Homo sapiens: one gene and its partner. The protein of the gene in region 2 purifies or fractionates together with the protein of the main gene of each other region. This does not show direct contact. Each region holds a gene or a part of one and is shown on either strand. Other genes may lie near its edges. The genes, in order: ITFG1 and PCDHA11.

Region 1 (3,824 bases), on a different chromosome or scaffold from region 2:
GCTGCTTATTATACATACTCTTCTACATTTTGCTGTTGCTTCTTTTGTTTGTTGTTGTTGTTATTGTTTTTTGCTTACCACTCCATCTTAAGAGACTGTTCTATGTCCGTGGCAGTGAAAAAAAATCATGCTACTGAGCTGTATAGAAGTACCGTACTTTATATAGTTTCCTACTCATGGTCCAGATTTTCTAGTTTTACTGTAAATTTCATCTATAGAAAACTAACACAAACATACAATACAGGCTCATTAAAAAAAATCTGAACCAGGACTATAACTGTTTCAATGATGTCATCTTATTCCAAGCATAAGGCTGTGATAAAGTTTATTTTCTTAAGCAGTTTGGTTCTGAAGCCCATTAATTTACCATAAAATGCATCTGCTGGTATGCTGGTAAACTGGCTCTGAGGTAGAGAGGGGTTCGGGAAGCCTTGTTTATGGTACTTGCCAATTTTCATGGAGTAGATTCTCCTACCATAACTGATTTCAGTGTGACTTCACTGAATAGAGATGCACAGAGTCAGGTCATGAAGTGGCATAAGCTGGTTTTGGCAATCAATACATTCGATCGAGATGTTTAATAAAGAATGATGAAGCTGGTATTTTCAGAGGGAATGTAACAAGCAGGGGACCCCACTGGTTACATATTCATAGATAAATTCACCATTTCTCTTTGGTTATTTTCTCATATTGATATTTGTCTAGCATATTTTTCCCTATGAAATTTAAATGTTAGTGAATACTTTTATCGCCTAATTTAAAAGGAATAGAATCAATCTAGGAATTTAAATAAAAATGAATAAAATTTAAGGATTTAAAGTTAAATGCTGTATTATGAAATGAATGTATTCTGTTAATAAGGATAAAAATACCTACCATTCGCTTACCACATGCTTGGCACTGTGTTAAGTATATTTCACCCTCAGATGCAGAAAGTGAGTCTTGGAGAGGACAAAGGACTGGCTCCTACTCTTGCAGTCAGCCAGCAATGGAGCTGAATCATTTTAGCCTACATCTATTTAACTCCAAAATTTGTGCCCAACCACTGTGGGATATATACTACTTCTCAAATAATTTATTTAAAAGATTAGTGCTTTATACAAAGATTTAGTATCCTGAAAGTTTGAATTTATAACTAGTAAACTGAAGAGCAGTTTATTTAAGCAGAATACATATAAATCCCTAATTAGTTAACCTCCTGTTTTTCTAATAGGATTGAATTTGTTCTTCATGAAAAATGTCTGGGACCTTTTATGTAAGTATGTTTAGTCATTTAAAGTTTGCCGTAAGCAAATTAAGGGATGGGCACTCATGGGAACACAGCAGGAATATGAGAGAGCTTAAAAGACATCACTGTATGTATAATTCAGAGTTAGCAGTGTCTTTACCAAATCGGTTCAAGCAAGTACATTACCTTCGAGGGACATTGTGAGGGTATGGAATGACAATTAGCTGGGAATTTGGAATGATTGCAGTCCACTCTTGTTTTCGTATAGACTGGAAGAAGAATTTAAGAACATTTAACATTCAGCACATTTAAAAAACACAATTATTATTCTAAATAAATAATGAAAAATCTAGCTACTTTGAGAAATTCAAATTCTAGGTATGGATTAAGCTATGTTTACCAATATTAAGCCAAAAATAAGGCTTTTGTGCCATCTGTTGGAAAATTTTCTCATCTTTTTGGGAAAGATTATATTTGTGTTTTATGAATTCATTCATTCAACAAATATTTATTAGACACTTACGTAGCAGGCACTGTTCAAAGGGCTATGTACAAATGCTGCTTGGAGCTAAAATTCAAATTGAGACTGACAATAAACAAAGCAAGTAAAATAATATGATTTTACATATTATATAAATAATACACATATGTATAATAATATTATTTATGTTACTAAAATATTTATGTACACGTTAGGTGGTGAAAAATGTTAGGATGAAAAAGCAGGATAGAGGGATAGGTGACGTTTATGGGAGAGGAGAGGGAAAAACTACACGGTATCTTAAAATCATGATGTGCTCTAAGTAAGATAAGCTTAGGTCACTACCAATAAATTTTTCTTTATTCTTTAAAGGGAATAAAAATATTTGGTTTATTTGAATTCAAATTCAATTAGGTTCAAATTATTTAATTTAAATACTTAAATAGTGAATATTAAAACATAGATTAATTGTAAACAAAATGAATTTTTACTCACTTTTTCTCCAGATGGACGGGGAATACCAACGTAGAGATGGTCAAGAAAATTTGCGCTCCGACCTAAACCAAGCACGTTGTATGGTAGTTGGAGAGCTAAATGTGCGGATTGGCTGAGTTGGCCAGCTAGAGTTATTCAATTAAAAAAAAATTAAAAACATCTCTGGAAACATTGCTCCCATCAAATATTAAAATGATAAAATGTTAAAAATTTAGGTACTGGAATGTATCACGTTTCAAAATGTGAAATGAAAGATACAGGTCATTAATATTAATGATTCACTTTTTTCTTTTTTTGAGACATGGTCTCACTCTGCCACCTAGGCTGCAGTGCAGTAGCACTGCACTGAGCCTTGACCTCTCAGGCTCAAGCTATCCTCCTTCCGAGCCTCCCAAGTAGCTGAGACCACAGGCATGTGCCACCAGGCTCGGCTAATTTTTAAATATTTGTGGAGACGGGGTCTTACTATGTTGCCCGGCCTTGAACTCCTGGGCTCAAGTGATCCCCCTGCCTCGGGCTCTCAAAATGCTGGGATTACAGGCGTGACCCACCGTGCTCAGCCAATGATTCACTTTTTAAAGAAAACAGCGTTACTGAGATATAATTCACATACCATACACATCACCCGTTTAAAGTGTACAGTTAAGTGGTTTTGAGTATATTCAAAGAATTGTTCAGCCATCACCACAATCTAATCTTAGAACATTTTTATCACTTGAGAAAGAAACTCCATACACATGAGAAGCCATGTCTGTTTCCAACCTGCACACTTCCAGCTGTATGTAATCACTAATCTGCTTTCTGACTCAATAGATTTGCCTATTCTGAAGATTTCATATAAATGCAATCATACAATGTGGTCTTTTGTGACTGGCTTCTTTCACTTAGCATGTTTTCAAGGTTCATCTATATGGTAGCATGTTTCCATACTTTATTACTGTTACTTGCCAAATAATACTCCACTTTGTTATATATACATTTTGTTTCATTAATTAATTTCATTAATTGATGGACATTTCAGTCATTTCCATTTTTGGTTACTATGAAAATACTGCTGTGAACATTCATATACAGGTTTATTTTTGTATTCACTCTTGTTTTCCTTTCTTTTGATTATGTAGCTAAGTGTTTAACATCATTAGGAACTATCGAACTGTTTCCAAAGTACCTGCACCATTTTATGTTCCCACCAGCAATGGATAATGGTTCAAATTTTTCCACATCCTCAATAACACTTTTTGTTGTGTCTTTTGTATTATAGCCATGCTCATGGTTGTGAAGTGGTATCTCATTATGGTTTTTACTTGCATTTCCCAAATGACTAATAGTTATTAGCCATGAAAATGGTCAATAAACACGTGAAAGAAGCTCAACTACACACACACACACACACACACACACACACACACACACATACACACACACACACACCAATTAAGTAAAGCATCTGGCCCTGTAGGCACATTTTCTGTTGTCTTTTTATTTTTTTAAAGAGATGTGTATTAGCCTACTTTCCTGTTTCTTTGTATGTCTTATAATTTTTGTTGAAAACTGGACTTTTAAGATAATATTGATAACTCTGGTATCGCTTAACCCCACCCAAGGGTTTGTTGTTTTGTT
Region 2 (4,624 bases):
CATCTCATTTCTTTTAGGATTTGCTAACCAAATATTAAGAGAAATAGGACATTTATTGGTTAAAGAAGCCAGATTATTCATATGATTAAAAGACTGAAGATGTGTATCATTTGGTATTTTATGAACAGACATTGTTATCTAAAACAATATTCAAAACACTGGTTATTCATAAAACTTTCCCTTAAAAAATCCGTGAAAAAAAACTGGATTTTAAATAATTTCACATACACTTCCTGATAGGTGGAATCTGTAGAAAACTCACCTGTCCGGGGTGATTTGACCCTGGCTCCTGTCTTTCCCCTTCCTCCTCTTTATTCAGACCTAGAGGAAGACTGGGGCTGAAGGCCATGAGGTCCGTCTTAGGTGGGCCCTCCTCAGAGCACACCCTCTGCCGCCTCTGCTGCGAGTATGACCAGCTCCCCACCGCGCGGGAGCACACCAGCGTGGGCTTCCCCGGCGCGCACGCGCCCTCAGTGGGCGTTGCCGACCACCACAGCGCCGTATACAGCAGCAGCGTGAGTACCAGGAGGCTGGACACCACGCAGATGGCGATGATCAGGTACACGTTGACATCCACCAGCGCAGCCTCTGGGCTCGCGGCGCCCGCCAAAGTCCGGGAAGAGGCCTTTGGCGCCTGTCCGCTCTCCACCAACGACACCAGCACGGTGGCCGTGGCCGTCAGCGCCGGCTCACCGTGATCCTTCACCAGTACTAGAAGTCGGTGGCGCGGCGAGTCTGCCTCGTCCAGGGCACGCGTTGTGCTTATCTCGCCCGTGTACAGCCCCACGCGGAACGGGATGCGCGAGCCGCCCGCCGCCGGCTGCAATTCATATGAAAGCCACGCGTTGTAGCCTGAGTCCGCATCCACTGCGCGCACCTTCGCCACCACGTGGCCCGCACCCACCGACCGCGGTACTAGCTTGTTAACTGCGCCTCCCGCGCTGCCAGCCTGAGTCGCCAGCAGTGCCGGCGCGTTGTCGTTCTCGTCCAGCACGAACACCTGCAGCGTCACGTTGCTGCTCAGAGGCGGCACGCCCGCATCGCGCGCGCTCACCTGGAACTGTAGCAGCTCCAGCTCCTCGTGGTCCAACGGCTGCAGCGCGTACACCTTGCCGCTCTCCGCGTGCACCGACACGTAGCTCGACAGCGCGCGGTCGCCCAACCGCCGCTCCACCAGCGAGTAGGACACCAGCGCGTTCTCCTGCGCGTCCGCGTCCCGCGCCGACACTGTGAAGATGTGGCAGCCTGGTGGGTTGTTCTCCTTCACGAACACGGTGTACTCGGGCTGTGCGAACGCAGGCGCATTGTCGTTCACGTCGGCCACCTCCACGGATACCCTGGCCGTGGCCCACAGAGAAGGCGAACCCCCATCCCGCGCAGTCACCACCAGTTCATAGGCCCACACGTTCTCGCGGTCCAGGGCGCTGTCCAGCACCAACGAGTAGTAATTCTTGAAGGTGGACACCAGCTTGAAGGGAACGTGGGGCGTCAGCGAGCAGGTCACCTGTCCGTTGACACCTGAGTCACGGTCAGACACGCTGATCAGGGCAATGACCGTGCTGGGCTGAGCGTCCTCTCGTACTGGGAGGGACAAGGAAGTCACGGCGACTTCAGGAGAGTTATCGTTGGTGTCCAAGATTTCCACCCAGACTGTACAGTGACCTGCCATTGGGGGAGTCCCCTTATCTGTAGCCTGTACTTCAATTTTATAAAACTTGTTTTCTTCATAATCTAAAGTTCCATTGACCCTCACTTCTCCATTATTTTGATCTAGTGTAAATAAGTGTCTTCCATTGGGCTTAATTGACATTAAGGAGTATGTTACCTCTCCATTGACTCCTTCGTCTCGGTCTGTGGCGTTTAGTTTGAGCACAAGAGTTTCTTTAGCAGCATTTTCCATAAGGCTCACCTTATATTCTGATTTATCAAACTCTGGATCATTGTCGTTGACATCCAAGACTTGGACTAACAGCCGAACGGTGCCAGTAAGCTCTGGTTTTCCCCCGTCTGTAGCTGTTAGCAGCAAATTAAGTTCCGGAGTTTTCTCTCTATCCAGAGACTTCTTTAAAATAAGTGACAGTCTTTTAATCTGCTTACCATTTGTTGGTGAATCTAAAGAAAAATACTCATTTTTACTTAGCCTGTAGGTCAATAGAGCATTCTCTTCAATGTCAGCATCAGAAGCTCCCTCTAGTGGAAAACGCGAGTCCGATTGCTTAGATTCCGCAATCAGCAGCTTTTGTTCTCTGAGCGAGAACACCGGCGGGTTGTCGTTAATGTCCTTCACCTCCACGTTCACATGGAAAACCTGCAGCGGCCTGTCCACGATCACCTCCAGGTGGATGCTGCACTCCGCGCTCTGCCCGCACAGCTCCTCGCGGTCGATCCGAGAATTCACAAACAAAATGCCATTCTGCAGATTTACCTCCAGAAGGTCCCCATGTGTTTTGGACGCCACCCGGAACAGGCGCTGCACCAGCTCCGCCAGCTCCAGCCCCAGGTCCTGCGCGATGCGGCCCACGAAGGTGCCGTGTTTGGCCTCCTCCGAGACGGAGTAGTGGAGCTGGCCGCTCCCCACCTCCCAGAATTCGAGGAGGAGAAGCCAGAGCTGTAGTCGTGGGGTGCCCAATCCCCTTCTCTGAAAACCAAACATCGCATACGAAATTGGCTTCCAAAATAAGCTTCTTTACACTTACAGTACCAGATTCTTCAGTTTCAGGTTAAAAATCTCGTTGAATTCTTAAGAAGTTTCAAAGGATCCTTAAACGGTGGCATCCGGTATGATGGAGTTCCTTTGTATGGGAGTGCCTCACTGTTCAGACCAACCTTTAAATGAACTTTCCACCAAGTAAAGAGCGACACCTTGCGCCTAAAACTGTGAGTACTGTGCACTGCATTTACCACCACAGAATTTCACGTGTTTTGGGTTTCTTCCCCCAAATATTTCCAACGTGCTTATTTATGGAATATTCAGATTATAAGTCATATTGAAACTAAATATATATGGAAATGGCATTGTATTTCTCGATTAACATCAAATTTAAATTATTGTGTCTATGTTTGACTTAACATTATAACATTGTTCTTTTACTTATCTAAAATACTTATACACAGAGTGAGAGAGAAAGAGAATTCAGTTGTTAAGGTGGCCTCATGAAAAACTAGGGTTAAACATTTCCTGAAAGTGTTGTTCCTCATATAAAAATACTATCAAATTTGAATTGTTTTACTTTCAGTCTCCCTTGTTACTTTGGCTGCTAGGGAACTCAAAGAAAAAATTGAAGTTTTATAAAAGCAGCTCTTTAGTGTTTATGTTCCACATGATCTATTCTCATCTCTGTGGGCTTGCATTTTCATATCTATTTTCTATAGTTCTCATTCTTTACTGTTATTTACATTTAATTGCTTTCTGATTATAAGTGACTTTATATTCATTGCAGAACAATATGAAAAACAAATATATTCATATTCTCAAACTTGGTAGTTTTAAAAAAGAATCCACAAAGGAAAAGTCTATTGATCTAGATGAGTTTTTATTTGACATATATTATTTCTAATGTAAGCCATAGTAGCATAATATGAGATATCAAAATTTAGCACTTTATGTAACAGAATCAATGATATGACAGAAATAGGCTTTTCAACTATAAAATAAATTTTATTATCATTTTATAAAATAAATAAAATCACCCTGAACATCTTTGTGCCATATTGGTATTTCCAAGTCACCAACATTGGTTTCCTTAATCTAATTCAGTTATATTCATGAAAATAGTTTGTTTCTTGTTGAAAGAATTTTGGGTTTGGGAGCAGAAGTTCATGGAAAACAAGGGAAGTGATTTTTAATTATACCTTCTGTAAGTACCTGATATTGTGCTTAAAACATAGAAAATTAATCAAACAATTCAACTAAATGGTAAATTACCTTAGTGCTTGTGGAAATGGAATTTCATAGAAAATGCTAAGTAAAATACAGGAATTGCTTATGAGAGTTTTCTTTGCCTGAAGTTGTAACTTGCTTGAATTTTCTTTGTCTTTTCATATACCCTTAGGATTTAGGAGGAAAAAAAGAAGATGCAACAAAATTTTAGAGTAGAAAGTGATTTAGAATAAATATCACTCTAGCTTAAATATTTTGTTCTATAGTTTTGATGGTTTATCTCCAATCTAAAAATACTGCAAGGGCATATGAAAAAGTTATCATATGTGTATGCTAATATTTTATATATATATTCAACTATTAATTTGAGATTTTGTTCTACTTTTTTCATATTTACTCTTTTCCCAATGTTGTCATAACACTAGAACTCTAATTCAGGTAAATGCAAAATTCTGTATTAAAAAATTAAAGGAGACATATCAACTTTTATAACCGTTAATTCCATTACGCATCTGTAAAATAATCAATCATAGTAGCCTCTAATCAAAACATAACATTAGACCAGATGACAGTATATTCAACATGATATTTGAAGCACATCAGGTTTATTTTGAACAAAAGGAAACAACAGATCCTCAATCACCTTATTATGGGAATTGGGGATGAAGATGTTACATGGAATGTGGAGTCTTGCGAGGTAGGGAAATGAACCTTAGAAGGTTTACTCTGGAAAAATGATAATAT

What was found.
Region 1: the proteins of PCDHA11 (region 2) and ITFG1 purify together in Homo sapiens (affinity purification with mass spectrometry; one large-scale study listed by BioGRID and IntAct). This does not show direct contact.

The regions. Positions count from the first base shown.
Region 1 is NC_000016.10:47,160,336-47,164,159, forward strand, and holds part of ITFG1 (T-cell immunomodulatory protein isoform 1 precursor), read right to left. Parts: intron 2,413-3,824; exon of another isoform or gene 2,330-2,412; coding exon 2,205-2,329; intron 1,498-2,204; coding exon 1,415-1,497; intron 1,256-1,414; exon of another isoform or gene 1,214-1,255; intron 1-1,213. UniProt on the Homo sapiens protein: Modulator of T-cell function. Has a protective effect in graft versus host disease model.
Region 2 is NC_000005.10:140,867,133-140,871,756, reverse strand, and holds the start of PCDHA11 (protocadherin alpha-11 isoform 1 precursor), read right to left. Parts: upstream 2,801-4,624; 5' UTR 2,654-2,800; coding exon 263-2,653; coding exon of another isoform or gene 221-262; exon of another isoform or gene 157-220; intron 1-156. UniProt on the Homo sapiens protein: Potential calcium-dependent cell-adhesion protein. May be involved in the establishment and maintenance of specific neuronal connections in the brain.